2 linked regions of the Homo sapiens genome follow. The protein of the gene in region 2 purifies or fractionates together with the protein of the main gene of each other region. This does not show direct contact. Each region holds a gene or a part of one and is shown on either strand. Other genes may lie near its edges. The genes, in order: PGM1 and MDH1.

The links.
Region 1: the proteins of MDH1 (region 2) and PGM1 fractionate together in Homo sapiens (co-fractionation; 2 studies listed by BioGRID). This does not show direct contact.

The regions. Positions count from the first base shown.
Region 1 is NC_000001.11:63,595,420-63,611,822, reverse strand, and holds part of PGM1 (phosphoglucomutase-1), read right to left. Parts: intron 1-16,403. UniProt on the Homo sapiens protein: Catalyzes the reversible isomerization of alpha-D-glucose 1-phosphate to alpha-D-glucose 6-phosphate. The mechanism proceeds via the intermediate compound alpha-D-glucose 1,6-bisphosphate.
Region 2 is NC_000002.12:63,596,230-63,612,632, reverse strand, and holds the end of MDH1 (malate dehydrogenase, cytoplasmic), read right to left. Parts: intron 15,235-16,403; coding exon 15,059-15,234; intron 13,464-15,058; coding exon 13,341-13,463; intron 7,938-13,340; coding exon 7,761-7,937; intron 7,354-7,760; coding exon 7,240-7,353; intron 6,695-7,239; coding exon 6,605-6,694; intron 5,772-6,604; coding exon 5,646-5,771; coding exon of another isoform or gene 5,589-5,645; 3' UTR 5,436-5,588; downstream 1-5,435. UniProt on the Homo sapiens protein: Catalyzes the reduction of aromatic alpha-keto acids in the presence of NADH. Plays essential roles in the malate-aspartate shuttle and the tricarboxylic acid cycle, important in mitochondrial NADH supply for oxidative phosphorylation.

The sequences.
Region 1 (16,403 bases), on a different chromosome or scaffold from region 2:
CAAGCGATTCTCCTGCCTCAGCCTCCCGAATAGCTGGGACTACAGGCATGTGCCACCACACCCAGCTAATTTTTGTATTTTTAGTAAAGACAGGGTTTCACCATGTTGCCCAGGATGGTCTTGATCTCTTGACCTTGTGATCTGCCTGCCTTGGCCTCCCAAAGTGCTGGGATTACAGGTGAGAGCCACTGCGCCCGGCCTACAGATAGCTTTTTAGGTTTTTGATCCTGTCTCCAAAATCCTCCCTTCCCTCAGGGCCATAAGAGAATTCCCAGGCTGGGCCTTAGGATAATTCCCAGACTGGGTCTTATGTTGGCCTGTGTATAAAAGAAAGCCTCAGGGGTTAAGGACCTGTGTGACCTCAGGGGTTAAGGCAGCTGAGTCACCGGCGGCCTCCCTCTTCCCTTCCTGCAATGCTGGAGTTAGGATGAGTCCTACTTTACAGTCTAAGGCTGTGCTTTTACTTTCTACAAGGATCTCCTTGTTTTGCAAGGGCTGCTCCCACTACACAGAATGTCTTCTTCATACCCCCATGTCTACACTTTTTCCTGGCTTCCTCTTTATCATCCTTCAGGACTTGGCTTAAACACATCTCCCCTGGGAAGCTTCCTCTGACCACCCCTGCGTGTTCCCCTCCCTAGGGCCCCCAATACACCCTAACGAGGCACTTCTCACACTATATTGCAATGCCCACTTGCGGAGACCGTTTTATGCACTACTGCATGCCCCAAATACACAGCACTGTATTAAGCAATAAGAAAACATTCAGTAAATGTTTCAGGGATGGAAAGCACCCCATCAAATCTTATTCACGGAGATTTCTGGAGCAAGTGGACCTAATCAACTATTCACCAGAACCACTATCCTAAAACCATAAGGGGTAGACCTGGCATACAAACACCAAACACCGTAACCAGTACTTAAGCTACTCAGGATCAATTTTGCTTACTTTGGGGCTGGCTGCTGTGTTCTTTTGAGAAAACTTAAGTATCAGGCTGACGACATATTACTGAAAACCTAAAGTTATACAGAACAGTTCTCCCTCCCCCCAGGCTCTGTGCATGAAACACTCTCTGTAAGAAAGATATTTCTGTTCTGAAATTTATAAGCTAATAGGTGTAGAGCATCTTGACAGGTCATTGGCAAATCTGGGAAGAAGAGAAGTTAAAATGAGGGGGTAATGGCCGGGAAACCTTTTGCAAGAAGTTTAAAGTGTCTGTATTTCCCATCAAAACCCCCAACATATTAATTTCACAAATGAGTAAAGAAGCAGCTCAAGCAATTTGCCCAAGATTAAACAGCTAATAACTACCATGTCCAGGAATCAAACTCAGATCTCACACCAAAGATTATATATACTTTTAACATAAATTTTAACATAAAAGATGTAATTTTGATATTCCACTAAGATTCTCAAAATGGCAAAACGCCTGTAACTTTTTTTTTTATTATTCTTTAGCACATCTGAATTTTGGACTTTGAGAGAACTAGACGAAACTGTGTGTAGAGATTTGTTTTTGGCAAGAGGCTTACATTAGTCCAGTGGAATGACTTTCCTGAAGCAACATTACAGTTTCAAAAACAACCAAATAATTCATATTTGAGTGGCACCTTAGAATTCACAAAACCTTTGTATGTACATTATTTCATTCTATCCTCATAAAATTCTCTGATATAGCATATATTGGAATTAATCCCACTTTACTGGTGAGAAAACAGTTTTAGATAAGTTAAGCAGTATACATGATATTGTACAATTAATTATGAAACTGAAATTTGAAGCAAAATCTCAAAGTCTTCACTTCCAACCCACTACTATGAACTGAGGTTATGTGGTAAAATTAGGTAGCCACCAAGTGGTCTGACTTCCATTTGGAACCCATTGTAAGTTGAAAATATCATCAGTCAAAAATGCATCTGATCCACCTAACCTACCAAACATCATGGCCTGGCCTAGCCTACCTTAAATGGGCCCACAACACTTACCTTAGCCTAAAGTTAGGGAAAATCATTGAACACAAAGCCTAATTTATAATAAAATGTTGGAAGATCTCGTGTAATTTATTAAATACAGTACCCTGTATTGTACATTATTGGTCGTTTACCCTCGGGACCGCGTGGTGGACTGGGAGGTGTGGCTCACTCCTAGAGTATCATCCTGCATTTTGCTAGCCTGAGAAAAGATCAAAATCCAAAATCCAAAGTATGGTTTCTACTGAATGTGTATCACTTTTACACCACTGTAAAGTTGGACAACTGTAATTCATCATTCCATGGTAAGTCAAGGACTGACTGTAATAGAATTCGCACCCTGTTGTAACTACCCATGGAGTGCCTGTCTCCCCCACCAGCATGAGCACCCTAAGCACAAGGACTTTGTCTTACTCATCCTGTACCCCCAACCACTGTGCACAGTGCCTGGCATACAAAAGTGTTCCGCAATGCTTGTCAAATGAACACATTCACATGTCCCAGGAGGTTTCCAGAAATGCCAGCATACATTTCTTGCAGCTTCCCATCTGCAGCAAGACATTGGCCTGGGCCCAGTAACCATTCCACAGATCCATCCTGAAATATCCATCCTTAGCTAGCCACTGCTAGCTGGTGACTCAAAACAGGTGAAGATCTCAGATTGATGGGCCTGTGGCTGAGATTTAGAGCAACTGTGAACCTCTGCCTGACAGAAAAAGTCCAAGGGATAATGTGTGGACAGAGGCAGGATAGGACAGCCAAAAAGTGAGGGTGGTAAGAGGCACAAAGACCCTCCCTAGGCCCATCTTCTTATCCCCTCCCTCTGCCTTCCAATGGCCTCAGTATTTGGAATAATCATAATAATCATAGAATCATCAGAATCTTCTCTTTACTAACCAGTTACAATGTCAGGCCCTATAACAAGTGCTTCACAAATTTTATTTCATCCTCACAAGAATCTTTCAAGGCAGATATTACGATTACTCTTTCGAATACCACTTCTACATATGGAGGAGCTGTCTATGGCAAACTGTGGGGTAAGTGATTTTCTCATGGATTTGACCACAAAGCGGTTAGAGTGAACTGTGTGGCCCAGCCCAGAGAGGAAGCTGGGCTTTCATGACAGGTGCCAGTCTTATCCCTGATTCCATCTGAGTTTTCTACACTGATTTCCCTTTTGCTTCATTTCAAAATCTTCCTTTAAAAAGCACTTCATCTTGTTCCACAGAATGCATTTTTCAAAGTCCCCATGGAGGTGGTATAACCTAATAGTTTTATTGCTAAATCAAAAGGCCTTTCCCTGTCCCCACCCAGTTATACCATCCCAGATCCATTTTCTGGCCTCTGAAGTCAGGGGACAATTTCACACAGTCGAGGTGGGCACTGGCTTAGCATTTGGGTTTCAAGTTCTATGGTTTAGAGCTGACAGGACTCTCTTCCTCGGTCAGGGCCGGGTATTTGGCCATTTTGTCGGTTTATATTTTAACAAACCTTCCCATTTTGTACAGCTCCTAAATGCCTCACCAAAGCAGGTTTAAACGTTTACCAGAATGGAAGAGAACTGTATCCCCAGGCCACTGCGGTAGGCTGCAGAAAGCAGAATGCCAGACTCTGCCTCAGCAAGAACTGTCTCTTAAGCTCCTCTCTACAGGTCAATGTGCTTGAACAGTATAAAATACAGTAACTCCCTTTAAACAGTTATGCCAGTTGAGTACATTCATCTCAATTAGCATTATCTCTTTCAAAACAATCACCTTGGGAAACAACATATTTATTCAAACAATGCTGACACCTCTCTAACTCTTTTAGTGGGTAACTGTTTTTACTGTCTGCGGCACTTTCTTTGAAAGTCCTCAGTCATGACAAATCTCATCCTTTGAGAATAGATTTGAACTTTGGAAAAAGACAAAAATTGGCTGGAGCCATGTCTAATGAATAAAGTGGGTGATCAAATCTTGTTACATCGCTTTAGGTGAAAAATGAGGCATGACTATAAAATAATGTGACTGGTTTTCCTAGGTGACCCATAAACTGACTGGCTGAAAGATAATTCCCATAGAGGAGTTTCAAATGCTTTGAGCACTACACGCATCACTGGAGTGCGTGCATGGTTCCCAGAGTGGCGATTTGGCAGGGTACGATACTAATTTGGATATATAAGTTCAAATATGTTTATAAAAAAAGAAATCTGATTGCTTACCCTCACGAAAATGAAGAAGCTATTCTGGAGAAATGTCGCCTCCTTTTTTTGACAGCCTGGTCTGCTGTGGACAGAGAGTCTGCCAAGAAAGACACACTTATCTTCTGCAGAACGCCTTCGCTGGGCACACCACCCATCCCAGGCACACTCGCCTATCCCAGGCTGGCCCTGAGCTCCCATGACCATCTCTTTTTCCTTCTGTGTTAGCTTTTATAATACCTAATGGTTACTGTCTGGTTTTGCATGTGTCAATCTTCCCCATTCAACTGGCAGCTCCTTGCGAATGAGGACATCTTTAACCCTCCCATGCTCAGGACAAGGCACACAGAAGCATGGGATACTAATTCCACTGCTCCTGACACAGCCCTTACTTTGCTTCTCATGATCCTGTGGTTTCACTTGGTAAATGGAACTTCCCCTGCCTGGCAACCAAAACTGGACATTTGGTCCATGTAAAGTCTACCCACACAAACGTAGAGACTGAAAGTAGACTAACGGCTGCTTAAGGCTGAAGGGGTAGGGAAGCAAGGGAGATTGGCTGCTAATGTAAGGGGTTTCTTTTAGGATCATGGAAATATTCTGAAGTTAGATTGTGGTGATGGTTGTACAGTTCTGTGAATAGACTAAAAAATATTGAATGATTCACTTTAAGTGGGTAAATTATATAGTATGTGAATCATACCTCAATAAAGTAGTTTAAGACTCGTACAATGGCAATGTTTGTGCCTTGGTTCCTTTCTAAAGTGGGGTTGGAATAATTGACGGCCAAGGTCTCTTCCAAAAATCTAGCTGCCCATATAAAATTAAGTTCTGTCTTCTCTCTGTAACACTACCACTTGAAAATGACAGTGATTTTCACCAGATTTGGAGGGAATGCTTAGGACAGTATAAACTATTGGTTGTTTCCCAACATCAATTCTCTGTTTCATTTGGTTTGTCAAATCCCCAATGTTTAGCTTGACAGATGACACCCAGAATAAGACTGATATTTCACAGCCCTCCTTGCTGCTAGAGGTAGGCTTAGCTAAGTTTTGATTAATGCGACATGAGTGCAACAGATATGTTCAATCTCTGAGAAAGGTGTGCCTTCCTCCATCTTTCTCCCCTGTTGGCATGTTAGCTGGCATGAAGGTAAGGTGGTGGGCAGCCATCCCGGACCTAGATAAGAGCAACACTCCAGGGAAGGCTGCACAACAGAAGAAAAGGGGCATGGGTCCCTGTGTATAATGGAGCCACACATCAGCCCTGGACTGCCCACACCCAGGATATGAAAGGAAGGGTTCCATTACTATCAACTTTTAAGTACTTTATTTGGAAACTCTGCTAACAGCAGCCAAACCTACATTTTAACAAAAAAGTTGGTATTCTGTACCAAAACAGAATCTAAAACATTGGCATCAGCATGCTTTTTATGGCATGGAAAAATTTGTTGCCTCTGATAGCATGGAAGGCAGACCACTGGCCAACCAAATTTGTAGCTTGAGACAAATGGTTGGCAGAATTCAGAACATGAGTGCTTGTCAACTACCTCTTGCTACAATAAAGACGGGAGCTCAGGCAAGGGCTGGCCATTCTGCAGAGAGAAATAAAGGCAGGTTGGGTTCTGCTAAGGGAAGTTTTGTTTTTTGTTTTTACTGTGGCCTGCAAATGATACCGTCCAAGTCCAGGAATTTGTGCCATCACAGAGTTGAGATGACAACTATTTGTGAAACCAAGTTAAATCAGCTATACAGTAAGCAGCAGGCTTAGCAGAGAAGGCTGTGTCTAAAATCTTTCCCAGGGCTAGGTGCGGTGGCTCACACCTGTAATTCTGACACTTTGAGAAGCCAAGGTGGGTGGATTGCTTGAGCTCAGAAGCTGGAGACCAGCTTGGGCAACATGGCAAAACCTCATCTTTACAAAAATACAAAAAATTAGCCAGGTGTAGTGGTGCATGCCTGTAGTCCCAGGCTGAGGCTCAGGTGGGAGGATCACTTGAGCCTGAGAATTCGAGGCTCCAGTGAGCCATGATCACACCACTGCACTCAGCCTGGATGGCAGAGTGAGACCCTGTCTCAAAAAAATAAAAATAATAAATAATAATAAATAAAATATTCCCCAGGATTCTCTGTCAGACAATGGGAACTAGCCCACCAGCAAAATCAGATTAAGGATACTGCCTTCGTACTAGCCTATCTTTTCCACCTGTCTCAAGGTAGCCATCAGTAATAGAGAAATCAAGGGAGGCACAAAGCATCCAATAAATACAAGTCAAAGTTTTTAGGTTTCAAAACTATCTAGGTGAGAACTTTCACTGTGATTACCAGCACATGGAACTGATCAGGATAGGCCAGAAGACTACTAAATTTGTGAAGGTACTGTACAGTGAAAGAGCCAGGAGCCTGGCCTGCAAAAGTCACCCCTGCCTCTTTTCCTCCAACTTTCATCAGCAGGAAGCAGGTTACATAAGCTGTACAGCCCCAAAAGGACTTTTAGGGCCTTCTCCAATGTCCACTCTTACTCAATAAATATATTTACATGAGCAGGTGGATAGAGTTCCTCCCTGAGGGTGGAACCAGGGTTCCCTGTGGACCTACTCCACTGCCAGGACAGGAGTGTGCATTCCCAGCCAGGACAATGCGACAATGTGAACACTCCTATGGCTAGTGACTGGTCTACATATGTAAATATACAACTATATCCCCTCTCTTTACACACACACACACACACACACACACACACACACACACACACAGAGTTATGTAACTCCCTCCCTATATATATAGTTATACATAGTTATGTAGTGGGGACAGGGGGCCTGATAATTTGTCTTTAACTTTACACAAGGAGCCACACATGGGCTTGATGGAGAGAACTATGAACACTGAGTACTGACTGGGTAACTGGAAGGAATCTGGGGTGCCTCCACTGGAAAGGAGTGCTGTGTTTCAATGGGCAGGAAGAACAATGGGCATGGCTGTCTTCATGGCCAAAGAGGTGGACCATGGCACATATTTCTAGTGTTCCTTCTCTTCTTTAAGGTAACAGAACCACTCATTTTCAGGGGGCCATATGCCTCTCAATATAGAGTCTACATTTTCAGCCCTTCTTGCAAGTAAATGTGGCCTGCATGTTAGATCTTCCCAGTGGATTGTGAGCAATAGTCAGGTACACAATTTCCTGATTTTAAAGGGGGAAGACACTCTGCCCCATCTCTCCCCTGTGCCCACTAGATGAAACATGGATGTGGTAGTAGAAGCCATCTGCAACCAGATGGGCAAGGGCAACACCTTCAAGATGGCAGAGCAACAGGATTAAAGAGGCTGGGTCCCAACATCATGGATCCATCATGCTAGTCTTGGCCTGCTGACCCACAATATTCCACAAGACAGAAAAACATCTTGTTTAATCCACTGTTGTTTTGAGTGTCTGTTACAACAGCTGATTGAACCTATAAAATCGTAAAAATTCCTTATAGGCTACGTGGTGTACATCAAATTCACTTTGGAAGGCACCTCAAAGTATACTCTTTCAGAGTGGTCCAAACAGATCTGCAGCGGTAAGATCAAGCCTTGACAGGGAAATCTGAGATTTCAAATATAAGCCCGGTAGAAAGGCACAGGGCATAAGTGCTCCAAGTTGCAGGTGATGAATCATGATTGAGATGATTCTCATATGTGCACTCTGAGTAGCATCAAGAATGTGCAGTGTAGTCACATCATACAAGTATTTATCTTGCACAAATGTAACTGTTGTATATAGAACTTCCAGGGAGACAAAGAAGACAAGAGTGAAATTTAAACAGCATGGGCAATTCTGCCACCATTTCACCCAGTGACCACAGGCCCCTGCTCAGTCTTAGTCCCCACGTGCTTCTCAAAGTATGGGTATCTTGAGTGCACTTCTGCTATTTAAAGACATACCTGTTGTGTTACATGTTGTTCTCCAATGTGGTACTTTCCTATGGGACTTTAAGGATGATTTTGACTGAAGTTTCATCTTCCACTCGAACTCTAGAACCCATCCCACTGTAAAATGCAATTTCCTCTATTAACTAGATGATAGTTAATGGCTTGCCCCCATTGATCCTGGGAAGCCATCTGGTCTTACGATTCTGTTCTACTGACTCAGTTTTCATTTTTTATGTGGAACATTTAAGGAATAAAAACCAATGTGCCTCGAGGTGGATTTTGCCTCTTGTTTTACATTGTGATTCCAGAAACTGGTTTTAATTCAACCCAGTAGTGAGAAAAATAGCTCTGACTTACATAGCAAGATCTCCGCACTTCCCTACTCCACATACTCATTTCCTGCTTAAAACTGCCCAGATTAGCATTATCCTCAGCCACTCTCAGTGGGAACCTGGTATTTGGAACATGGCCCAACACCCCTTACATTCTAGGAAGAGTGGGGGCAGTTCCCAGGCTCTTTTCCTGACTTTGTGACCTGGGACACCTGAAAGGTTTGTTGTAGACAGGAAATAAGGCCATGCATGTGGCAGTAACTTGTAAAATAGAAAACATGAGGTACATTTTTAGTGCAGTTGCTCCTTGCAGAGTATGAAACAAAAATACGGAGTTGGGGGGCAGTGAGGGGAGCTTTCTCTTAAACATGCCAAATTCTCTCACCTATGGTTCTGCCTGGAACATTCCTCTCTGCTCTTCACCTTCAGGTCTGGTTTTAGTTGTCACTTCCCTACTCCCTCTGCTGGAACCAGGCACGCCTCCTTTATGCTTTCCTAGCCTCCTTTGCTCACCTCCATCCCAGTGCTGACAGCACCTTGTGGCAGTTCTCTGCTTGTCCGTAACCCACCTAGCCTCCAACACAAACCTTCACCTTAAGTCCCAAGCATGTGAGGACTGGGCCTGTATTGTTCTCTGCTGCAACCTACGAGATCACCATGAAGTTTCACCAATCAGCTCATTTTGAGCTCCCTGCCAGTTTACAATCCTCACACTTGTCGGTTTAGCCCCCAAATGGCTATGACACCATGCAGATTAAGCCCTCCGGACTCACACAATGTAGTAGCCATTTCAATTCACTCTTGAGCAACATTTCAATTCACTTGTGAGCACATTGGAGTACAACATACAGGACTAATATTTGGTCAGAAGGACTTTTGTCACTTACCTCATAACTCTACATGTGGTGACCTGGTTAGAAAATACTTATTGGGCTGAATCAATCACACTCAAAGCAGCCAAGAACAAATTCATATATTAGTTGCCAAAATAAGCCATATGGTATACATGGATATTAAAACAAAATTTCACCTTCCCTGCATGCCCTTAATGGCAGTTTAAAAAGAAGAAACTTAAATCTGAGAAGATTCTTGTATAATATAGATGGTCCTATCAACCCAGCATGGTATAGATTGGTATTTCCCAAAATTCTTCTGTTTGGGGTCCTTTTACAAACTCTCAGTACTCATATATTAAAAGCTCTGAAACTCCTACTTAACATTGCCCAAGCCAGTTTCTCCATGCTATTAACCAGCATATTATAACAATCCCCAGAACTACTTGCTCTGGGATATATTTATTTATGGAAAAGACCAACCAGATGAAATATCAGAAGACTGGAGTCCCTGTTCCAACACCATTAGCATACTGGACAAGTCAACCAAATATTTCTGTCCTACCACCTATCGCATTTCATCCTTCAAAAACACTTTGGGGTACTCATAGAGAAAAAAAGAACATCTTTCCAATATGAAAACATAATTTTCCAAGTGTTTCTGATTCATGATTAAATCTTTATTGGCATGACTTAATTAGCATTCCCCACTGTGTTAATTCAGGGCTGTCTTTATGCCTTGGGGAATCAGCTCAGTGGTGATTTGGAGAAGCTATGGGAAGGAGGACTTCCAACAGCTGAAGTTTAAAAAACTAAACAAAACAAAACCCAGCTTACATCCATCCGCGTATCCCAACACTAAGCACAGCCTTCTCACCCTTTCCAAACAACTCCCTATGCTGCCCCCTTGTGATTTCTTTCCCCTTTGAGGACCCCAGGGGAGAAAAGTCTTCTCCGCAGTCCTCCCAACTGAAGCCCTCGGCTAGCCATTACTTACTTAACACACTCAGGAGCCATTTTTCAAAGGTGGATCCCAACTGTGAGCACAGCTTCAAAGTCAGCAGAATAACTGGCTATGTCTGTGTGGGCCTCAAGGGAACTTGGAGGAGAATAAAGGGATCAGTTCAAACTTTCCTGCTTCACTTTCTTAGAAGTGTAGCTCACTCAAATCAATCTGCTGAAAGCTCTTCTAAAGTCTAAAGGGGTCCAGACTACACCACTGTGACATAAAAATTATTTTGAGCCAGTCATTTAAAAATAGGCTTTTTACTAAACTCCTTCATCTGTCTTAAAAGCAGTGTGCCCCAAAGGAACTCTGGAGTTTCACAACCAGGGAAGATCGACTCATTACCATAACTAAATAGACACTGGCATAAAACTACCACATCTCCTATCTAGTCTCTTAAGGGCTGATTTATCTCTCCTAAAGTCGTGGTTTCCAGCAAATGCTCTTCTCCTCTTCCGCCTTCCCCTACTGAGATGATGTATAGGCCCCCAAGTCTAACTGCCTCCTGTCACATTTTTCTGTAAACTCCCACAAATGTCTTTTTGTTGCTCATTTGTCTTTTACATTTAATTTGCAAGCCCCCAGTATATAACCTAGGAGGGTAGATGAAAAGTTTTCCCTACCCTAGAGTCCAAGAGAGAAAAAAATTATTGTTAAATATTTGATCAATGTTGATTACACATCTTATTATCCCAAGATAAATTTATAATAGAATAATACTTATAATCTATATGCAAAATGTCATAGTATATTGGGACCCTTTGTACGATAAAATGTATGCTACATTTATTTACCTGAGGCATAATTTTATAACATTAAATGATTATATGTGTTTATCCTTTCCATCTAACTCTTCCTCTGTCTGGAAGTCTTTTCACGGATATCTGCATGGCTCACTCCTTCACTTCATTCAGGTCTCTGCTCTCATGAGGTTTATCAGACATCCCAATTGCTGCACTAAAAAGAGCAGCCCATCCTCTAATGCTGTCCCCTTTACTGGGTTTTATTTTTCTTCAGAGAACTTATCTTCATTTGACACGTTTATCATCTGTCAGGCTCAACGAGAACCCCACAGCTCTGTAGAGCAGAAACTTTGTTCAATTCACTGTTGTATCCGTAGTACCGAGAACCTAATAGGTGCTCAATAAATATTTATTGAATGAGTCACTCTTTCCAAAACAGTAGAGCACTCTTCCCTGTTATCTTGTTTACAAAAACAAAACAAACCCTCTATCTCAGAAAGGGAGAACGTTTTTCTTTTTCTTCTACAAAATTTCATGAGCATTAGATTTGATTAAAAAAGAAAAAGGAAAAAGATGTTTCACCAAGAGCATTAGTGAAGCCAAGAAAGAAAAAGTCCCAAGCAAGCTGATTTAAGTATTTTATGTAACAAAGATTGTTTAGTGACTAAGTGTCCGGCTCTAAAAAAGAGTCCTGCCTATTCTCTCTTTCTCACTTCTCTCGGCAGGTCCCCTTCCTGAAGGGTAGCCCCATCTTCTATCGCACACTATCCGCTCTTCAAGACATAATTGGTTTTAGGTGCAGGCACCTCTTCTTTCCCAATCCAAAATGTTCTCTCTCTCGCTGAGCTCAGCATGTTTTCTAATTCTGTTCTTTGTATGTCTATGTGTTTCTTCTGTCTTATCTCCCCCAAAAGATTGTATGCTCCTGGATGGAAAGGACAATAGGTTATCCATACTGGCATTCAGTGCTGATTCAAAATCAGAAAGTGTAAACAAGGGGAGAACAATTGTTCAAAGCCCACCATAATTCATTTTATATTTATTTATTTATTTATTTTTGAGACAGGGTCTTGCCATCGCCAAGGCTGGAGTGCAGTGGTGCAATCACAGCTCACTGAAGCCTTGACCTCACAGGGTGAATGTGATCCTCCTACCTCAGTGTCTCAAGTAGCCGAGACCACAGGCGCCCGAAACCACACCAGATTAAGTTTTTTTATTTTTTGTAGACAAGGGGTTTCACCATGTTGTCCAAGCTGGTTTGGAACTCCTGGGCTCAAGTGACCCACTCAAGTGCGGTAAGCCACCATGCCCGGCCCCACCATAATTAAAAAGTGGTTTTTTTTTTTTTTAAAGTGGGGGTTACAGCATGTTAAAAAGTGACTTGGGCCGGGTGTGGTGGCTCACGCCTGTAATCCCAGCACTTTGTGAGGCCGAGGCGGGCGGATGATGAGGTCAAGAGATCCAGACCATCCTGGCCAACATGGTGAAACCTCGTTTCTACTAAAAATACAAAAATTAGCTGGGTATGGTGGTGCACGCCTGTAGTCCCACCTACTCAGGAGGCTGAGGCAGAAGAATCACTTGAACCCAGGAGGCGGAGGTTACAGTGAGCCAAGATCCTGCAACTGCACTCCAGCCTAGGGCAACAGAGCAAGACAGTGTCTCAAAAAAAAAAGTGACTTGAAGGTGTTTCTCTGCCAAGTCATCCCTGCCCCAGGGATATAAGGTTTAAAGTTAAAGTAGCAAGGTGTCTCCACCTAACTCCAACTACCCAAGAGTCTCAAAACCTTCCCCTTCCTGCTCAGTGTTCTTTTATTTCCTTTTCAAGAAATGTGAACTGCTATAGCCAGAAACATGTTCCTTCAGCAGTGTTTGCAGATGGATCTCATGAAAGTTCAGAAAAGGGTGGTTCACTTCAAGCGGGAGACAGTGGAGTTCCTCCACTATAAGGCGAAGTTTGCAAAGTCCCACTAGTTTGCTCTGAGAACATGAGACCCTTAACCTCTGGGTCATGTGTTTGAGGTCCATTTTGGTGCAGGCATCACCTGATGCTAAAAAAGGATCATTGTTTAGTGTGGGGTTCTTAACTTGGGATGCTTACATCCCCTTCCCCTACCTCAAGAGGTCCTTGGGTAGAATTCAATGGGATCCATGAATATGAATGACAAAATAAACAAAACAATCTTTATTTTCACTAACATCTAACTGAAATTTAGCACCTCCTTTTATTATAAATGTAGGAAGCAAACCACAGTATTATTACTACTACTGCTACTATTACTACTACTACCTAGGAATTTATCATCAATAAAAATTATATTTTCATATCCTATTATAGTTATCTCAAAATACTGAGATTGCAGACGTCTCAAAACATCATTTATACTCACCACTACTTTGAAGTAAGGCAGTATTAAATCCTCCACAAATCTTCCTATGTCAGTAAAGAAGCATTATCTTGATATATCACAAATCTGGTTTTTTAATATTTTGATTATACTTCAATATAATTTTGCTTCCTTTGTAATGGTTTGTATTTTGTTTTATTCACTTAAAAATAAAAATACTCTGCCCGGCACGATGGCTCACACTTGTAATCCCAGCACTTTGGGAGGCAAGGCCGAGGCAGGCAGATCGCTTGAGCCCATGAGTTCGAGATCAGCCTGGGCAACTTGGTGAAACCCCATCTCTACAAAAAATATAAAACAATTAGCCAGGCATGGTGGCATGCACCTGTAGACCCCAGCTACTTAGGAGGCTGAGGTGGGAGAATCAACTGAACCTGGGGAGACTGAGGCTGCAGTAAGCCACGATCGCGCTACTGTGCTGCAGTCTGGGCAACAGAGTAAGACCATGTCTCAAATTTTTAAAAATATATATTCTGAGAAGGGGCTCCACAGTTTGCACAAATGAGTAGCAAAGGAGCCGTGACAAAAGAATCCCTGTAACTTGACAACAACAACAACAACAAATACCCTCCTTGCTCATAAGTTCCCACAAAGGTATTTATTTTATTTTGCTTAGGGTGGTGATAAATCATCCTTCAAAACATGCACACATTCATTTGTGAGCTTAAACTCTCCTCAATTTCTGATGCTGGTCATTTGCAGATCATTAGACCCAGAAGTGATTTTTAGAGACCAGGAATAGTTTCAACTAAAGAATTCGTTGGGATTCTCTTGGACTTTTCAGTAACATGGGCCAATAAAATTCCTTTTTCACTTGGAGTAATCCAAGTAAGGTTTTTGTCATTTGTACCCAATTGGGCTCTGACTAACACGGAACCCCTCTATATTGGTTGAGGCTGTTGAGGATTAGAGGAAGGTGGGAGACCATCTGGGTGGCTCATATCTGCATCACGTTGGATTGTGTCCTAATACCAACAAAACATTGATAACACACCTATCATTCGAACAGTTTCCAAGTGAGGTACTTGTAAATATGTTGTTTCATCTAATCCTCACAACAGGCTCTTCAGGTATGTATTATTCCCAACCTTTGTGGATGAAACAAAAAAGGACTAGAAATTTGTATTTGTATCTAATCTAAACTCCCTCAATTTGTATTCATTCTGCTAAGAATTCCTCCTACCAGACAAACCCACTCTGGGAACTCCAAGTCATTCTTTAAGACTCAATTCGGCTACCACCCCTCTATGGAGCCTCCCTCCCTTCATCTTCCCCTCCCAAGTACAGCCCCTCAGGTTAAAGACACCTGCACATCCCTCCATCACAACACCTGACACATTGTGCTGTCTGCTTACTCCTGTATACCACCCCTCCCAGACTATGTCTTTCCCAAGGGCAAAAATATTTTGTATCTCAAGTACAATGTCTGAGGCAAAGCAAGCACATAATAAATGTTTGATGTGAATAAATTTATTGGTCACCAGCTACATGCTGGCTTTAAATCAAGTGCTAGAATACAAAAGTGACTCACAGTTCAGAGCAAATAAACAAGAATTCATTGAATGCTACATAGTCCTAGGCATTGCAGATACAGGTAAAACACAGGTCTGACTTAAAGAAGCTTACTCTCTAGTTGGAGGCCGTTGACATGTAAACGGAAAATTTCACTAGAATTTAATATATATATTCTAGAATTATCTATGGGAAAGGAGCACTTAATAGGTGGAGAAGAGTGGTAGGGATGGGGTGTCAAGAAAGGTTTCTGAAGATGCCATCTGGACTGAATCATATCACAAGAGAAAGAGTAGCATATTTAAATCCCGAGTGAGTAGAGAGAGTGAACAAAATCAGAGAACAACCTGAGCGTAGAAACCTAGGGAATAGGCCAGGCGCAGTGGCTCACGCCTGTAATCCCAGCACCTTGGGAGGCCGAGGAGGGTGGATCACCTGAGATCAGAAGTTCGAGACCAGCCTGGCCAAGATGGTGAAACCTCATCTCTACTAAAAATATAAAAATTAGCCAGGTGTGGTGGTGCATGCCTGTCATCCCAGCTACTCAGGAGGCTAAGGCAGGCGAATTGCTTGAACCTGGGAGGCAGAGGTTGCAGTGAGCTGATTGCGCCACTGCACTCCAGCCTAGGCGACAGAGTAAGACTCCGTCTCAAAAAAAAAAAAAAAAAAAAAAGAAGAAGAAAAAAGAAAGAAAGAAAGAAGAAAGAAACCTAGGGGATAGTCAATGTGCAGCCCATGAAGGAACTTCCAAAAAGTGTGAGTAGAATCAGGAGAGTAAGCAAGGCCAAGGGAGGAAGAACTTTACAAGAGTACAAAATCAGCACTGCCAAATGCAGCAGAAAGGCCAAATAAGATTAGACCAGAGTGTATTCCATGAATTTAGCAACTGGCAAGTCCCTAGTAACTTTGGCAAGAGCAATTCTACTGGAGTAGTGGAGGGGGCAGAAGCAGTGAAATGGCGAGTAAACCGGAGGTGAGAATGAGAAATAGTGAATGCAGAAAGCTTTTACAAAGGTTGGCTGAGAGAAGAGCAATAGGGCAATGGCTAAAGGGTGATGAAGTTTTAAGAACTTTTTTTTTTAGTCTTAACTAATTCTTTCCTTCCCACCCCACACTACTCCCAAATGGACAAATTTCCATCTGGGCACCTAAAATTCCCACTCTGCTGTAAGCTCCTTAAGGACAACTCTTGGGTCTGCATCATCCTTTTAGTCCACACATTTCTCTGAACATGGTATTCAACAGGATCTGTTGAATGACTGACTGAATAAATGAATGAATGAATGAAATGCAAATTCAGCACAGGTGGTAACAGGGAAATGATCTACTGGGATACAGCTATTGTCTGTTCTTCTTTCATGGGAATTTGCGCTTGTCTGAAAATTCAGGACCACAAAGTAAACAAATCCAGGCAATCTTCTCTCACTGATGCTTATAAATGTTTGGCCCAGGAAGGCAGATGTAGATAGAGCCCAGTTTAGATTTTGGAGCCTGGAAAACAGATCTTC
Region 2 (16,403 bases):
GGTAAACTGTGGAAAGGTAAGTGTATGGGGGAAACAAAAGGAATAAGGTTTGTTTTCATATGTCCATGTCAGTGCCAACTTTCTGTCTTCTTCATGGTCATGAAACTTCCCTAGGAGAGAGGATTTATGGCAGTCCTTATTTTCAGAAGTTTCTGCTTTTAGTCAGACAAGGGAGGCGCTGGGAAGGCTGCTTCTGTATCTGTTGAATCTGAAATGACTTTAGCTCAAAATACTTCTTATGCTAAAGTGGCATATTTTGGGGTGGCGTATTTCGATCCCCTACAAACCCAATAAGTAAATTGAGCCCTTACCATGTGCTTTCCATTTAAATAATCCTCACAAAAACATTTTAAAGGTTGTACTATTAATATCCCCATTTTGTATCTGAGGGAGTCAAAACGTAGAAAGGTTGTTTAAGGACACCTAAAAAGAGTCAGAGCTGGAATCCAAGCTTGTCTGACTTCCAAGCCCATGAGTTGGTCTATTCTTCAAAAAACGTGAAGTAAAATGTCGTTGTTAATCAGTAACTCTAGAGCAAGTCTGGATTGGACTAGGGAGAGAGGGGAGGCATAGACTCCAAACTGAGCTCCCATTTCCATTGTTATTGCAGAAGTCTTTTATGAAGAAATAATGATGGCTTGGACCAGGGTGATGGTGGTAAGGACATGAGAAAACTGGATGGTTTTAAAGATGTCTATTCTGCTTAAAAGTGCTTTACTCAATTGTGCTACCCAGGTCAGGCTATGAGTTTGATTTAGAATACGAGTCTATTCCCAGCAGAGTTAGAGGGCAAATTGACAAGAACCCATTTATTCAACAATGTGTATTGAACTGTCACTATATTGTGCTGGATGATACCAATTAGGTGACACTACTGGAATGAAAGCGTATATATTTCTACTGAGTCAGTAACCATTTTAGTTTGTCTAAGAACCCACCAATATTCAGAAATCAAAACAGATATGTTTCTTGTTTTGAGGTTTGTTTAAAGCCATCAAGATCATAAAGATGATGAGTTCTCATACCAATTTCACAAGGACAACTAGGAACTTATTTTTGTTGCTTTTTGTTTTTCATAGTCAAATTCTTAAGCTTACATACCAAAAAGGTACTTTCTAATATATTTTTCCCCTGGTCAACATTTCTTGAGAAATATTGTGGCTGGTTTAATCAAGGTATTGTTAAAAAAAAGTGGGGGGTTAGAAAGGACAGTTAAAATGGTATTAAATGTACATATAATATCAAATCCAGAAGGCTGCTGCTTTCATAACAAACTAGATTCAACAGTATTAAAAAAAATCTGCTGTGTTTTAGGAATTTATCCTGCAGATACACTTGTACATGTATGAAATAACCAACTTACAAAAATAGTCCAGCATCTTTATAGTAGTAAAAGATTGAAAAGAATCTAAAAGTCCATCAATAGGAGACTGGCTAAATAAAGTTTGGTATATCCATTCAACAGAGTACTACATAACTTTAAAAATGAATGGGGTGGCTCTGCAGGTATCTATATAGCTTTTATGGTTTTTTTTGAGACAGGGTCTTGCACTGTCACCTAAGCTGGAGTGCTGTGGCATGATCTCAGTTCTTTGCAACCTCTGCTTCTGGGGCTCAAGTAATCCTCCCACCTCAGCCTCCCAAGTAGCTGGAACCACAGGTGTGAGCCAGCAAACTGGGCTAATTGTTTTATTTTATTTTTGTAAGACGGGGTCTTGCCATGTTGCCCAGGTTGGTCTCGAACTCCTGAGCTCAAAGCGATCTGCCTGCCTGGGTCCCCCAAAGTGCTGAGATTACAGGCATGAGCCACTGTGCCTGACGCTAAGTATCTATATAGCTTTAAGATGTATTACTAAAGGAAAAACACAGAGTGCAGAACAGTGTGTTATAATTTATGTACAAAAGGGGATGGTTACATGCACACACATATATTTACATACATACTTTGGTTATGCATTGAATGTTTCTGAGCTATAGGCCATGGGACAAAAACAAGGCTTAAATGGGTGGGAGTCAGGTGAGCAAAGAACACTTCTTTTCACTATGTATTCCTTTTTTTTTTTTAATTCTCAAAATAAATATGTGTATTTTTTTCCCTGTAAGGATAAACAAAAATTTGGTTTTCATTTAACACCATTTCATTGATTTTCTAATGTATATATAACTTTTATTTAAATTATGATTTAACTGGCAGTGGAATTATAGGGTTTTTCCCCCACTCCTTCTTTATGTTTTATTAGAATTAAATAAAGCTGCACTGGCTATCCACTTGTTGTTCAGGAAACATTACCAGGGTCATGATCTGCAGAGGTCAATATTCCCTTAAGGTTTAGGTTTATACAGATTGTACCTCTTTTGGAAAGCTTCTTAATCTAACTTTATTGGCTTAAAATGTAATGTCTTTTGCCCTGTAATGCATCCATGTATCATTTCCTCAAGTACTAGTAAAAATGCTTAGGAAAGGCATAGGCTTTTCACATATTATCATGCTGCTTGAAGACACAACTTCCTGGGCCTGGACTCCATTAAGAGAAGGAGCAACAAAATGCTTTGTTCTCTTGGTAAAGGTGATGGAAGTGAAGAGCATTAAAAAAATGGCATAAAGAGATAATCAGTTTCACAGTGTGAATATTCAAACCGAAACCCATGCTTCAAAGGCAAAGTTGGTGAAAAATTACTTGTTTCTACAAGTAATCTAGATCTCTCCAATAACTTTCATATATACATACTTTCTTCATATAACATTTTCTTTTGTTTTTTAAAAAGACAATCTTGCTCTGTCACCCAGACTAAAGTGCAGTGGCATGATCATGGCTCACTGCAACCTTGACCTCCCGGGTTCAAGCGACCCTCCCACCTCGGACTCCCGAGTAGTTGGGACTACAGGTGTGCACCACCATGCCTGGCTAATTTTTTATTTTTAGTAGAGATGGGGTCTCACTACATTGCTCAGGCTGGTCTGCAATCCTCCCACCTTAGCTTCCCAAAGTGTTGGGATTACACGCATGAGTCACTGCACCCAGCCAAGATTTTCTTTTTAATTCTACATGAAATTAGTTTTCATGCTTCCAACTAATTGCTCTTCTAAAGATATGTTTGATTCATTTGTTTTTTTCTTTTCTGGCTTATATAAAGTGGATAGAAGGTAATGATAGAGGAAACCAACAGGAAGGAGTAAGAGCATGTTTTCTTTCTCTTCTGCCATCCAGTCCCCCTCTAGTACCCTTTATTAGTGTGTGTATATATATATATTTTGTTGTTGTTGTTTTGTTTTGAAATGGAGTCTTGCTGTCACCCAGGCTGGAGTGCAGTGGCATGATCTCGGCTCACTGCAACCTCCCAGGTTCAGGTGATTCTCCTGCCTCAGCCTCCTGAGTAGCTGGGATTACAGGCATGCGCCACCATGCCCGACTAATTTTTGTATTTTTAGTAGTGACAGGGTTTCACCATGTTGGCCAGGCTAGTCTTGAACTCCTGACCTCAAATGATCTGCCCGCCTCGGCCTCCCAAAGTACTGGGATTACAAGCATGAGCCACCGCGCCTGGCCCATTAGCACATTTTTAACAAGGAGCAGCTGGTAAAGAAATGTGGCTTGCCAAATTCCAGTCCTAATGTCACGAGAATATAGAAGGGAGTGTTTGGAACTGAAAGAAAATAACAACTGGTACAATTCATACTTACTTTATACAAAATTTTGTTCATTCTATATGAAATTTTGTTTTTATGCTTCCGATTAATAGTAGTCCTAAAGGTAGTTTTACTCAACTTGCTTTTTCTTTTCTACATCATAAAATGATCTAGGTAATTTTTAATTTTTTAAAAAGGAGATGGTCTCGCTCTGTTGCCTAGGCTGGAGTGCAGTGGCGTGATCCTAGCTCACTGCAGCCTTGAATTCCTTTGCCTAGGTGATCCTCTTGCCTTACTTTCCGGAGTAGCTGGGATTACAGGAATCCACCACTGCACTCAGCTAATTTTTAAATTTTTTTGTAGAGATGGGGTCTTGTTTTGTTGCCCAGGCTAGCCTTGAACTCCTGGCTTCAATCAATCCTCCTGCCCTGGCCTCCCAAAGTAGTAATTTTAAATAAGTCCAACCAACAAATATTTGAGCATCCATGAAGAGTACTATGTTAGGCCTGGAGATATTTATTAATACAATATTGCCTATTACATGTGGACAGTGTGTTAAGCATGAGGATGAAAAGATAGAAAATGCCTTCTGCCATCATAGGTTTGGGGAAAAAACAAGACTATTAAAAAAACTCCACTATTTTTCTAGTAATAAGCTTAGTTTATTACTTACTTCTAACATCATAACACTATGCTAGTGTTACTCCTAACACTAGCATAAACTTCTGTGGTATTTAGTGGTTTTGAAATATAAATGATTCCTTATCTGCTAAAAAGTAATACCTCCAGTGAAAACCTATTACCATTTTTTTAATATAATGAAAATATTCTAATTTCATCCAATGGCATAACACTGTTAACAATATTATCTGCAACTTATTTAATATTAGTAGCTAGCCTTAAAATCAAATTATCTACAAAGCGTAAACCTTTAAGATTTTAAAAATATGGTATTTGTTCAACGTAGGTAATGTTTACAAATATATGCTGAAATAGACTGATTCATTATCACAAGGTGGGTTTCTATATTCTATTTAAATACGAGATTTATGCTTTATCTTTCTAGCCTTACTGCCTTCCCCTGGTTAAAAAAATGTATATATATCTATCTCAAAATTATTTAGGCAACCTGGGAAACATTCGAGTTTGTTTTCTTTTCTTCTTTTTTTTTTTTTTTTGAGACGGAGTCTCGCTCTGTGCCCAGGCTGGAGTGCAGTGGCGCCATCTGCTCACAGCAAGCTCCGCCTCCCGGGTTCACGCCATTCTCCTGCCTCAGCCTCCCGAGTAGCTGGGACTACAGGTGCCCGCCACCACGCCTGGCTAATTTTTTGCATTTTTAGTAGAGATGGGGTTTCACCGCGTCAGCCAGGATGGTCTCGATCTCCTGACGTAGTGATCCGCCCGCCTCTGCCTCCCAAAGTGCTGGGATTACAGGCGGGAGCCACCGCGCCCAGTCCTCTTCTTTTTTTTGAGACGGAGTTTCCCTCGTAGCCCAGGCTGGAGTGCAGTGGCGCAATCTTGGCTCACTGCAACTTCCGCCCCCCGGGACAACCTATTCTCCTACCTCATCCTCCCAAGTAGCTGGGATTTCAGACCTGTGCCACCACGCCTGGCTAATTTTTGTATTTTTAGTAGAGATGGGGTGTCACTATTTGCCCAGGCTGGTCTCAAACTCCGGACCTCAGGTGATCCACCCATCTCAAGCTTCCCAAAGTGCTGGGATTACAGGTGTCAGTCACTGCGCCTGTCCGCAAGTTTGCTTCCTGAATAGACACTAAATATTAGCTAGAAACAGAGTCTGAGTCACTTTCATTTGAATATATATTTATTTAGAATGCACACTAACAGCATGACGATAAACTGTCATTCACAAACCTGTACCAAGAAGCACGTAATCTTTAAAATGTGTTGTTTTTCACAAGTAATTTAAGTATAGCATTATTATTATTTGGTACTTGAGTCAAAGACGACATTTAGATTCTTCAGCTTTGAAGCATTTAGTAACATCATTGTCTAGTCAGGCAGAGGAAAGAAATTCAAAAGCACTTTCTTTTTCTTCTGTCAGTTCCTTTGCAGTAAGATCCATCTTCTCACGTGAGAAATCATTAATAGGGAGACCTTCAACAAACTTCCAGGTCTTATTCTGTTTGAAAATAATGCAAATAAGAGATTTAAACTGGAACTGATCTTTCAGTAAGCAACAACCTTGTTTGAACTTATATTTAGAGGTATATCGTTTTAAAGTCTGATTCTAAAGTAAATAAAAATCCAGATTTTAATTAATAGATAATTCTAATAAAAACTCAACACTTGAATTTTAAACCCCTTGAATCTAAAAAAAAAAAACTTCAAAAATGACTGACTTTAGCACAGTTATAATAAAGAACAACAACACTGAAAACCATTGCTTCATTTAGAAATATACTATTTGTAGGTCTCTAATACTAGAGGCATAATAACATAGTGTCTAGTGGGAAGAGCTGAATCTTCCTTTCCAGATTAATTTCAATCATAAAAACTTTCAATGACCTGAAGCTGAAATACATATAGTTTTAAAGCTGAGAAAAATGTCTATTTTAGTAAAGGAACAATTTTCTAGATTAAGTGATAACATTCTGTTTTCTTTTTTGGGGGACAGGGTCCCGTTCTGTTGCCTGGTGGAGGGGTACTGTCATGGTTCACTGCAGCCTTGATCTCCTAAGCTCAAGTGATCCTCCTACCTCAGCCTCTCAAGAACCTAGGACCACAGATGTGTGCCACCATGCCCGGCTAATTATTTTATTTTTGCAGAGAGGGGGTCTCACTATGTTGCCCCGGCTGGTCTTGAACTCCTGGGCTCAAGCAATCTTGCCACCTTGCCCTTCCAAAGTGTTGGGATTATAGGCGTGAGCCACTGTGCCTGGCCAATAATACCATTCTTAAGAGAAACATATAACTACTTCCTCAAAGAAGGGAAATAGCTCCAAAATACCTTACCTTGATTACAACAGGGAATGAGTAGAGCAGATCATCAGGAACACCATAGGAGTTGCCATCAGAGATAACACCCATGGACACAAACTCTCCCTGAAAATAACAATGTTTCACATACTCATGATGATTAGTTTACACAACTGACACATGAACTAATAAAATTAAACCAGGTGACCCTTTCTTACTATGTTCATAACATCATTACTGTGTAAGGAACTATCATCAGCACCAGGTACTGGTGACAAGGTAACTTTCATGGATATTATTTCATTCCACGCTTCCATATCATATGTGAAGTAGGCCAGGGAAACCTAATCCTCATTTTACAGATGAGGAAGCTGTGGCATAGAAGAAAAAAATTCACCCCTACTATGTATCAGGCATTGTGCCAGGTGTTTTCCATGTGCAATCTCCTTTAACCCTCACAACCCTGTGTATAATAGTAATGTCATGTAAAAGATGACAAAACAGCTCAGAAAGGTCAAGGCTAACAAACCCCGAAGTTTACTTGTTAATAGGCAGCTGAGCTGAGAAATGAACCTAACCTGACTGACTGCTAAGGCTATATTCTTTTTATATTATATCATCAGGCAACAAAAATAAAATAGAGTGACCTGTGCAAATCACTAAATCCTTACCTCTGGGGTTCCAAACCAGATGTCCCTGACGTGGTCACAGATGGCTTTTGCAGCAGACATGGCACTGGATAGTTTTCGAGCCTTGATGACAGCAGCGCCACGCTGCTGCACAGTCTGGGAAGGGGGCAGGTGAAGGCAGCAGTATTACTTGGTCATGATAGCAAAGTTTTCATTAATTCCAAGTCGACCTTGGGGTGAAAAGCTATGACCAGAGCTTAATGTTTCCCCTCCAAAATCATGCAACAACCCAATGTCAGCCTTACCAATCCTTCTGGAAAAAGGAAACTATGTATCTCCATACAAAGTTTATCATAGGTCAGACAAAGACATGGATCTTGGTATAAATCTCAACTGCTGTCACATCAGATCACACTAGATCATGACTGGCTTACTATGATCCCGAAAGTATGCAGTCATCAGAGCAACTGTGAAAGACCTGCCCTCTTTAAGGTTTTCTGTCCTAAGAGTCTCTCAAGAGTTCTTTACGCTCAGTGTTAAGAAGGCTCACAGATTTTTCTTACCGTGACAAATTCTCCCTTGAGCCAGCTGTCATCTTTCAGAGCTTCATAAACACCAACTTCCTTTCCTTGCAATTTCACCTTGGCATGGTTGACATCTGGATACTGAGTCGAGGAATGGTTTCCCCAGATAATGACATTCTTTACATCATTAGCAGTCACACCAAGTTTAAGAGCAATCTAGTTAAATTGAAAACAAATACATTACTGAGACAAATGGTTTTTATTTCCAATTGGGACCTGTTTTGACAAATGCCCTTAAATAAAGATAAAAAGCTTCTGAAATTTCAAGAGAACACAAGAGTTATATTGACTTGTAAAAAATGTAAATTTATTGCTTGGCAATTTCCTACAACAGCTTAACAGTGGTAACAACTGTGGACTTGAAACCTTATGGAGTAGAATGTTTAAGGGTATGAAGCATCCCATAGTTTGTGGTTAACTTATTAGTACAGTAGGTGTATCAAACATAAAACATTAATCGTTACTATTATTTATCAATTTACTATTTCTTGAATATGTAAATGTGATCTTTTGTTTCACTGTTAATGTTTACTTGGAGATGTCTTCTCAGTGCTTCTGAGTAATCAGGTATTTAGGCACTTTATATTTAGGTAAAATTTTTATTATATACCATATAGAAATTAATTTTCAAATAACCCTAAATATGAAATTTTAGAGTTGGATAGGACTCAAATTACCAAGATATGACTGTCCTCATTTTATATATCAGGAAACTGAAGGAAAGAGGTTTTATATATGTGTATGTGTGTGTGTGTACACACATATATACACTCTAAAATTATAACATATGTAACAATCTCTAGCTATAACTCCAGAAAGCACTTTAGGGTCCTGCAATGCCTTGCAATCACATGTAGTACAGTAGCCACAAAAAAGGTTAGAAAGTTATGTCTTGGGCTGGGCATGGTGGCTTACGCCTGTAATCCCAGCACTTTGGGAGGCCAAGGCGGGCAGATCACCTGAGGTTGACAGTTCGAGACCAGCCTGACCAACATGGAGAAACCCTGTCTCTACTAAAAATACAAAGTTAGCCGGGCTTGGTGGCACATGTCTGTAATCCCAGCTACTTGGGAGGCTGAGGCAGGAGAATCGCTTGAACCTGGGAGGCGGAGGTTGCGGTGAGCCAAGATCGCACCACTGCACTCCAGCATGGGCGATGCAGCGAGACTGTCTCAAAAAAAAAAAAAAAAAAAAAAGAAATGTCTTGGTAGATTTAAATAAAATCAGCCTGCTTGTTATTTGTCTGATAAGTTTATGTGCAGAAAATAAATTATGATCAGGTATATGTATAATTTGTTCCTAACTAGACAACAGAATTTATGATGAACCAGAAGGGAATGTGGAAAAATATTTTAAGAAGCTGATCTGTTTTGGTGACATTGTGGGCAATTCTTCCTTCCTCTGTGTCCCAAAAAGAATGGGAGAAGAAACTAGTTGTGCCAGAGTCTGTAGCTTTAGCACACATAAATAAAGCATTTGAGTATTTACCATGTAAGAAAAGGAATACACTTTGATATTTTAAGGAAAATTTTAAAATAAGGGTAATAACAGCTCCAAACTGAAACAACTCAAATGTCGTTCAAGAATGGTTAAATATGCCAGGCGCGGTGGCTCACACCTATAATCCCAGCACTTTGGGAGGCCGAGGTGGGAGGATCAGGAGGTCGAGATGGAGACCATCATGGCCAACACGGTGAAGCCCCGTCTCTACTAAAAATACAAAAATTAGCTGGGTGTGGCAGCGTGTGCCTGTAATCCCAGCTACTCAGGAGGCTGAGGCAGGAGAATCTCTTGAACCTGGGAGGCGGAGGTTGCAGTGAGCCGAGATCGTGCCATTGCACTCCAGCCTAGGCGACAGGGCGAGACTCTGTCTCAAAAAAAAAAAAAAAAAAAAAAAAAAAAAAAAAAAAAAAAAAAGAACGGTTAAATAAACTGTATTATGTCTTACATAGGCAATGGAATAAATAAAAGGGGTAAGTGGAAAAACAACAAAAAGAAACAAACAACAACCTGGATGGATCTTAAAGGCATTAAACTGAGTGAAAAAGAGCCAGTCTCAAAAGGTTCCTTACTGCATGATTCCACTTTTGTAAATTCTCAAAATGACAAAATTATAGAGGTGGAGTGCAGAAAAATGATGTCAGGGACAGAGGGTGGTGTGACCATAAGGGAGAGTATGAAGGAGTTCTTTTGTGAGTGATGAAGAAATTCTGTACCTTGACTATGGGGGCAGTTACAGGAATCTACACTTGTAATTAAATGTCATAGAATCATTCATAAAGACACAGAAAAAAATAAGTGAATATAAAACTGGTGAAACTTCAGTAAGTCTAGTTAATAGTATTGTGTAGTTCATCAACTTCCTGGTTTTGATAATACTCTGTAGTTATGTAAGGTACCATCAATGGGTGATGGGTACATGGGCCTTCTCTGTACTATTTTTTTGCGACTTTTGAGTCTAAAATTATTTCAAAATAAAAAGCAAAAAAAAAAAAAAAAAAAAACCCCAACCAACCAACCGAAAAGGATAAAGATGAAAAAAAAGGCCATTACCTAAAATGTCTGCAATGACTCGACTGGTCTTCATACTAATTTATTCAGTTAAGTAAGAAGTAAACTGTCTTTACTTTCACTCCCACTCTTAAACTAGTTGAGACTGCTTTCTTAAATCCTAAAATAGTTAAAAGTTTACTTAAAAATTTATGTTTGTGATATTGTAAATCACTTTTGACCGATCTAATCCCTGCAAGTCTTGCAAGTATTAGGACTATTATCTACAATATTTGCATTAGTCTCCACAAATTAGTTCACAGTTGGGTTTCTGGGGTACCCAGCTATTGATCTGCTTAGCCTGTGGGATAGGGTAGAGTGGCACGCTGTTCAATGAGTACCATTTTTTACGTCTGCCATGACCAGAAAGAACTGGGGAAGAAACTGCTCTTATATTTATACTTAAATTTAGCTGGTATGGTATATAGAAAAAGATAAATTTATACCTTGAACAATTAACTCAAGATATATATTACCAGGAAGTTAGAGCCTATAACTTCCCTGAATGTCTGCTTCAATGCTCCCAAGTACAGTGAAGACAAAATGCCTCTAGGCCTCTCCACCCTCAGTCCTCCTTGGCTCCCATGCCTTCCTTTGTTCTTGTTGCCCTCCTCCTCTTGCTCCTTCTATCTCTTGAGCTAATCCAGTTCTGTCTGGACAGCAAAGGCCAGGTACTTTGCATCCAGCAGATATAGTTTCTTAATATGATTCATGTCACAATTAGTCTAAATTAATACATACCCAGGATAACAGCTCTTTGCTCCCTTAGACACTCATGTCTGTCACATAGGTCTGTTAAAAGTTTTTGATTAATTCTCCAGCCCTAGTAATTTTCTTACAAGCTAACTGGTATCATTGTCAAATTACCTTATCTGGTATCAATGTCAAATTACCTTATCAGCAGACATAAATACAGCACTGGTTTGCAAATACACAGGCAAGTTCTGCAGGTGTTAAACAGTCCCTAAGTCGCTAAGGCCTCTGAATTCCAAGACAAAAATATCTAGCAACCAGTCCTGTAAGAAAAACTTATCTTTGGGTTTGTTATTTTTCTCACTGGATAAACAACTTCTTCTAGAGGAAGAAAGTGCTTCTTCAATGACTCCCTAAAAGCTCTCACTATGCCAGATTGACATGCTGAAACAATGCCTAGCCAAGGTCCCAGGAGTAACAAAGAACATGTCCCCAAGTGAAGGTTAAAGTCTGAGGAGATAGCACTTTCTTTCCTCTTTGCTCATTCAGACTTGAGCCCTGCAGTGAGAACTGTTTCAGGCACCAGGACAAAGTATCTCTTTGAAGTACCTTTGGAAGCAGAATTTTCCAATGCCTGTCTCCACCAAAGCCTCAGGTGAAACAACAAAAAGTGGTTGTTAGTGTCATTGTTGTAGGAACTTTCTTGTTGTAGGAACTAAATAAGTCACTTTCTGGCAATCCAGAGTTTGCAACTGTAACATGTATAATATCTCTTCCTTTACAACTGTCCCACAGAACTCAAACTGCCTGCCATTCAAACAAACTCCTATTCGTTCTCAGCTACCACCAGACCCAGCTCACAGCCTATAGCCTCTCAGGGAATATTTGCACTTTAAGCTAAAAATTTAAGGGTTGTTATCCAACAACCCTCTAAATTAGGAATGTTTAGGCTGTATGCTTCTTAGAAAGAAGAAATCAACTAATAATAGCAGCCAACCTTTCTTGTATTTACTATGTGCAGGCACCATGCTAAGGGCTTAAAACAGATCTTATTTAATCCTCATAAGAACTCTCTGAGGTAGATACAATTATTACATTTTAAACATTGAATATACTTTCTCAAAATCACAGAGCTAGTAAGTGGACTAAGGTTAGTTGATACCATTAGGTAAGAACATACATAAGGGTTTGGAGTCAGGCAAATCAAGGTGGCTCCGTAATTTATGAGCTGTATGACTCTGAGCAGGTTCTCTGACTTCCCTGGGCCTCAGTTTTCTTACCTAATGCAGGGATAATATGAGATACCCATATGGTTACTATAAAAATTAAATGGAAAATTACATGTATAGCATTCAATTTACAGTAGATGCTTAACAAATGTATATTCTTTTCTCTTTCACTAGGCATTCCAGAGCTGAAGGATTATTAATTCTCAGGTTAGGGCAGTAGTGCTTCAGCTTAGACCTCACAGCATCTTCTGGTTAACAACAATTTTTTTTTGAAACTAAAGTTATCTTCTCTAGAAGAAAAAGCACTGAACTCATAGACCTATCTAGCAGTGATGACCTACAGACAAGAAGGGATGGCCAGAAAAGCATTAGGGCAAAGGAAAGAGGTTCTGTCCAAGAACGGGCACCAGGACCAGTTAGATCTGAAAAAGCCTAGGAAACTAGCTCAGATCAGTTGCCTGGCTTCTAATTTTTTGAAAAGCTATTGTTAATTCCCTGGTCACTGGCTCCTTGGCATACTTATCTATGGCTCTAAGAGTAAAGAAAATTAGCAACAGACTTTAGCTCCTAAGTAGTGAAAGGAGGAAATTTTACAGATACACATAGAATATTAAAAAGACATAAAATGAAAATTAAATATAAAATTAAAAATTAAAATCTGAATTTGATGGCTTAGCTGCAGCTAAAATAGAAGCAGAACCACACAATCACACAAAGCTCAAGTCTTTGTTTATATGAGATTATATGTATCTGAAAAAATTAAACTAAATTATGTACCATCATGTATAACTAATTTTTAACCACTGTAACAAGAGAACATTAGTAACTGCATTTCATTATAGTTAGCAATTGAAATATAGTTAAAGACGAAATCAAGTAGGAAGTCCAGCCTCTGGTCCTTTAAGAGAATACATTTAAAGACTCCCTAACAAATGAATAATAATTTACTTTTAATTTAATAAAAGTAATAGGTTCCTACTAAACAAAAACAAGAAAAAAGCACAAACTCAGATTCAGTTATTTTAAAAGTGAGAGAAAAATGTTTTAAAGTTGAACAACCACAAGATTTAAAATATATTTTTCTTACTTGAGCTTTAGCTCGGTTGTGATCCAAACGAGTCAAGCAACTGAAGTTCTCCTTGGGGATGGATGGAGCTGACTTGGAAGCAGTCAGGCAGTTGGTATTGGCTGGATTACCCACAACAATAACCTAGGAGGAATGGAAGGCACTGAAGAGTTACAGACTATATAGTTACTAACTAATCTATGTTAAAATTTGACTGAAAATGTCTAACAGGTAGCCTTTGTACAGGGGAGGCTTGGGAAACACCAAATACAATATAGCATAGGAAAATGCATTTTAAGTTATAAAAATCTTTTATAAAATGGTAATAAAAAATTTTGAAATAATATCAGATTTATAGAAAAGTTACAACCATATTACAGAGACTGACTCCCATATATCTTTTTTTTTTTTTTTTTTGGTACCTCTTTTGACAAGCTGTAGACAAGATACTTCATTGTCTCTAAGTAGTGCAGTGCTGGCAAATATTTCTCACGAACAAGGACGCTTTGAAGAAGTGGAATTACTGTGCAAGGAGTACTTTACCTCCAAATAGCCTGCAATTTAGCAGTCTGAACAATCTTCTAATCTTTTACTGGCACCTGTGGATTTCTATTAAACTCATTTATACTATTTTCTGTGATGACAGAAAATAAGTTAACTATTTAAAATGAAGTGCACAGAAAGCAAAAAATGCAGATATCTATGAAATGTTATTGATAGAACATTATAATGGGCAACTTAAAAAATCTTAAAAAATTTTCTTTCACCTTTTTTTGAAAGATAGGAAAGTATATGGAAATCAGTTAAACCTTTAACCGGCAAGCCTATTTGCTGGGTGACAATTAAGTTCTAGTTAATTGATAGTTCACTAATAAAAGAAGGTTTGGCTGGGCGTGGTGGCTCACACCTGTAATCCCAGCACTTTGGGAGGCCAAGACAGGTGGATCACCTGAGGTCAGGAGTTCGAGACCAGCCTGGCCAACATGGTGAAATCCCGTCTCTACTAAAAATACAAAAATTAGCTGGGTGTGGTGGCGTGCAACGGTAGTCCCATCTACTCACGAGGCTGAGACAGGAGAATCGCTTGAACCCGGGAGGCAGAGGTTGCAGTGAGCCAAGATTGCACCACTGCACTCCAGCCTGGGTGACAGAGCAAGACTCCGTCTCAAAAAAATTAAAAAAATTAATAAAAAATAAAAAAGGCTTACTGTAATATTAAGACATATTAGAATCTAAAGTAAATAGTTTGAACACAAAGAGAGAACTATAAGTCATACTGACTCAATTCTTCAAGAGACAAGCATATTAAAATTCCTCTGCATTAAGAAAATCTGAGCATTCAGAAACCACTATCTTCTATTCCTGAGAATAAACTTACCTTACAGCTAGCTATCTCCTTTCACAATCACACACAAATTTAAATGTCTAAATAAATATTCCCACGCAGCAAAAATGCACCAGAAGATCCTGTGCCTTCTCTATATGTTTAAGAACTAATACTAAATTTTCACGTTATACTAATAGGAAAAATATTTTTGAGCACTCTGAATATAGATTTCTATACTGTAAGAAAAAACCCAGAAAGGGAGAGCTTATCAAGCAAAACTCTAGAGCCGTATTTACTGATGATTGTACAGAACTAGAAAAAAGGGCAAATAATTTTGGTTTTGCTTAAATGCTAAAAGCATAAGTTTCAAATGCTAATAATGAAAAATCCCATAAAATACAGCATTGGTCACCTTAACTGACTTCTTGGCGTATTTATCTAAGGCTGCACCCTGGGATTTGAAGATTTTCACATTTGCTTTCAGTAAATCTTTTCTCTCCATGCCTTCCCTTCTTGGCATGGAGCCCACAAGAATGGCCACATCCAGGTCTTTGAAGGCAACGTCTTCTTTATCTGTTGCGATGACATCTGTGGACATGGCAATAAATACGCAGAGCTACTTAAACATCAAAGTTTGAAGTTTTCTTTTTCATATTGAATCTACCCATTAATTCTTTCACTTGTTGCAAGTGTTTACATATCACACTGATATACATTTCAGGAGCCTGAGAAAGATAATATATTAATTTAACAATCATAACATTAGAAATGTCAATAGATTTATTTTGCTTTTCCTGTTTCAATAATTACTTAAATGTCAAAACTCCATAGCTTTTATCTTTTATAATCATATATGATGCAAGGTATAATGATGACTTTTGAAGTGACACTTGTTATTCACACTAATTACCACACAACACAAAAGAGCAACTAATTCACCTAACCTTTAAATTACAATTACTTTAAGGTCTAAGACACCAATCACAAATTTAAAAATAATAAATGTTTATTGAGGAGTTTTGTGCCAGGATAATGCTAAGAGATTTATATTACTATCAAATTTAATCTTCTGATTTTATAGATGGAGACACTGAGGTTTAAAGAGATTAACTCGCCACCATCAAAAGATAATGGAGCTGTAATTCCAGCCTAGGTTGGTCCAGAGTTCAACCACTATGCTCCAGTGCTAGTACAATAAGCAAACATCACTTGCTTTTTGACTAAAGAACATAAGTCATCGCACTTCTTTGTTGATTGTATTAAAAAAGCTATGACCAACATTCAGCATTTTCACTGGAAAATTGGCTAGTTGCATCATAGTCAAGGCTGCCATAAGTCTGAAAATGGGCATAGACAGGAACACCAGTTGGAGAAAAAAAAATTATCTTCCTCTTTCCCAGTCACATGTCCTTATTTGCTGAACTTTCCCTTCCCTGTCATATTCATATCTGGCAGAGGACAAACCAACAGCAATCTGGGCCCTTTAGAGAAAAAGCACAGGGAACTCAGCAGAGAAAGGAATACAAATGGGAAAAAGCAGCAAAGCTGATTTGGAAAGAGCTGTGGGTGAGAAAAGGGAACCAACAGAATAGTGTGGGCAGTCATGTATTCTTCCACAGAACTTTGCAACCAAAAGACTTAGATGGCAGAGTATCCCTTCTAGCAAATGTTTATTCAACAGATGAAGAATTTTAAGGAAAGTTTTTCTTGGAAGGTATGTATTATTTTGCTTTGTGCAAACTTCTAGGAGAGTATCA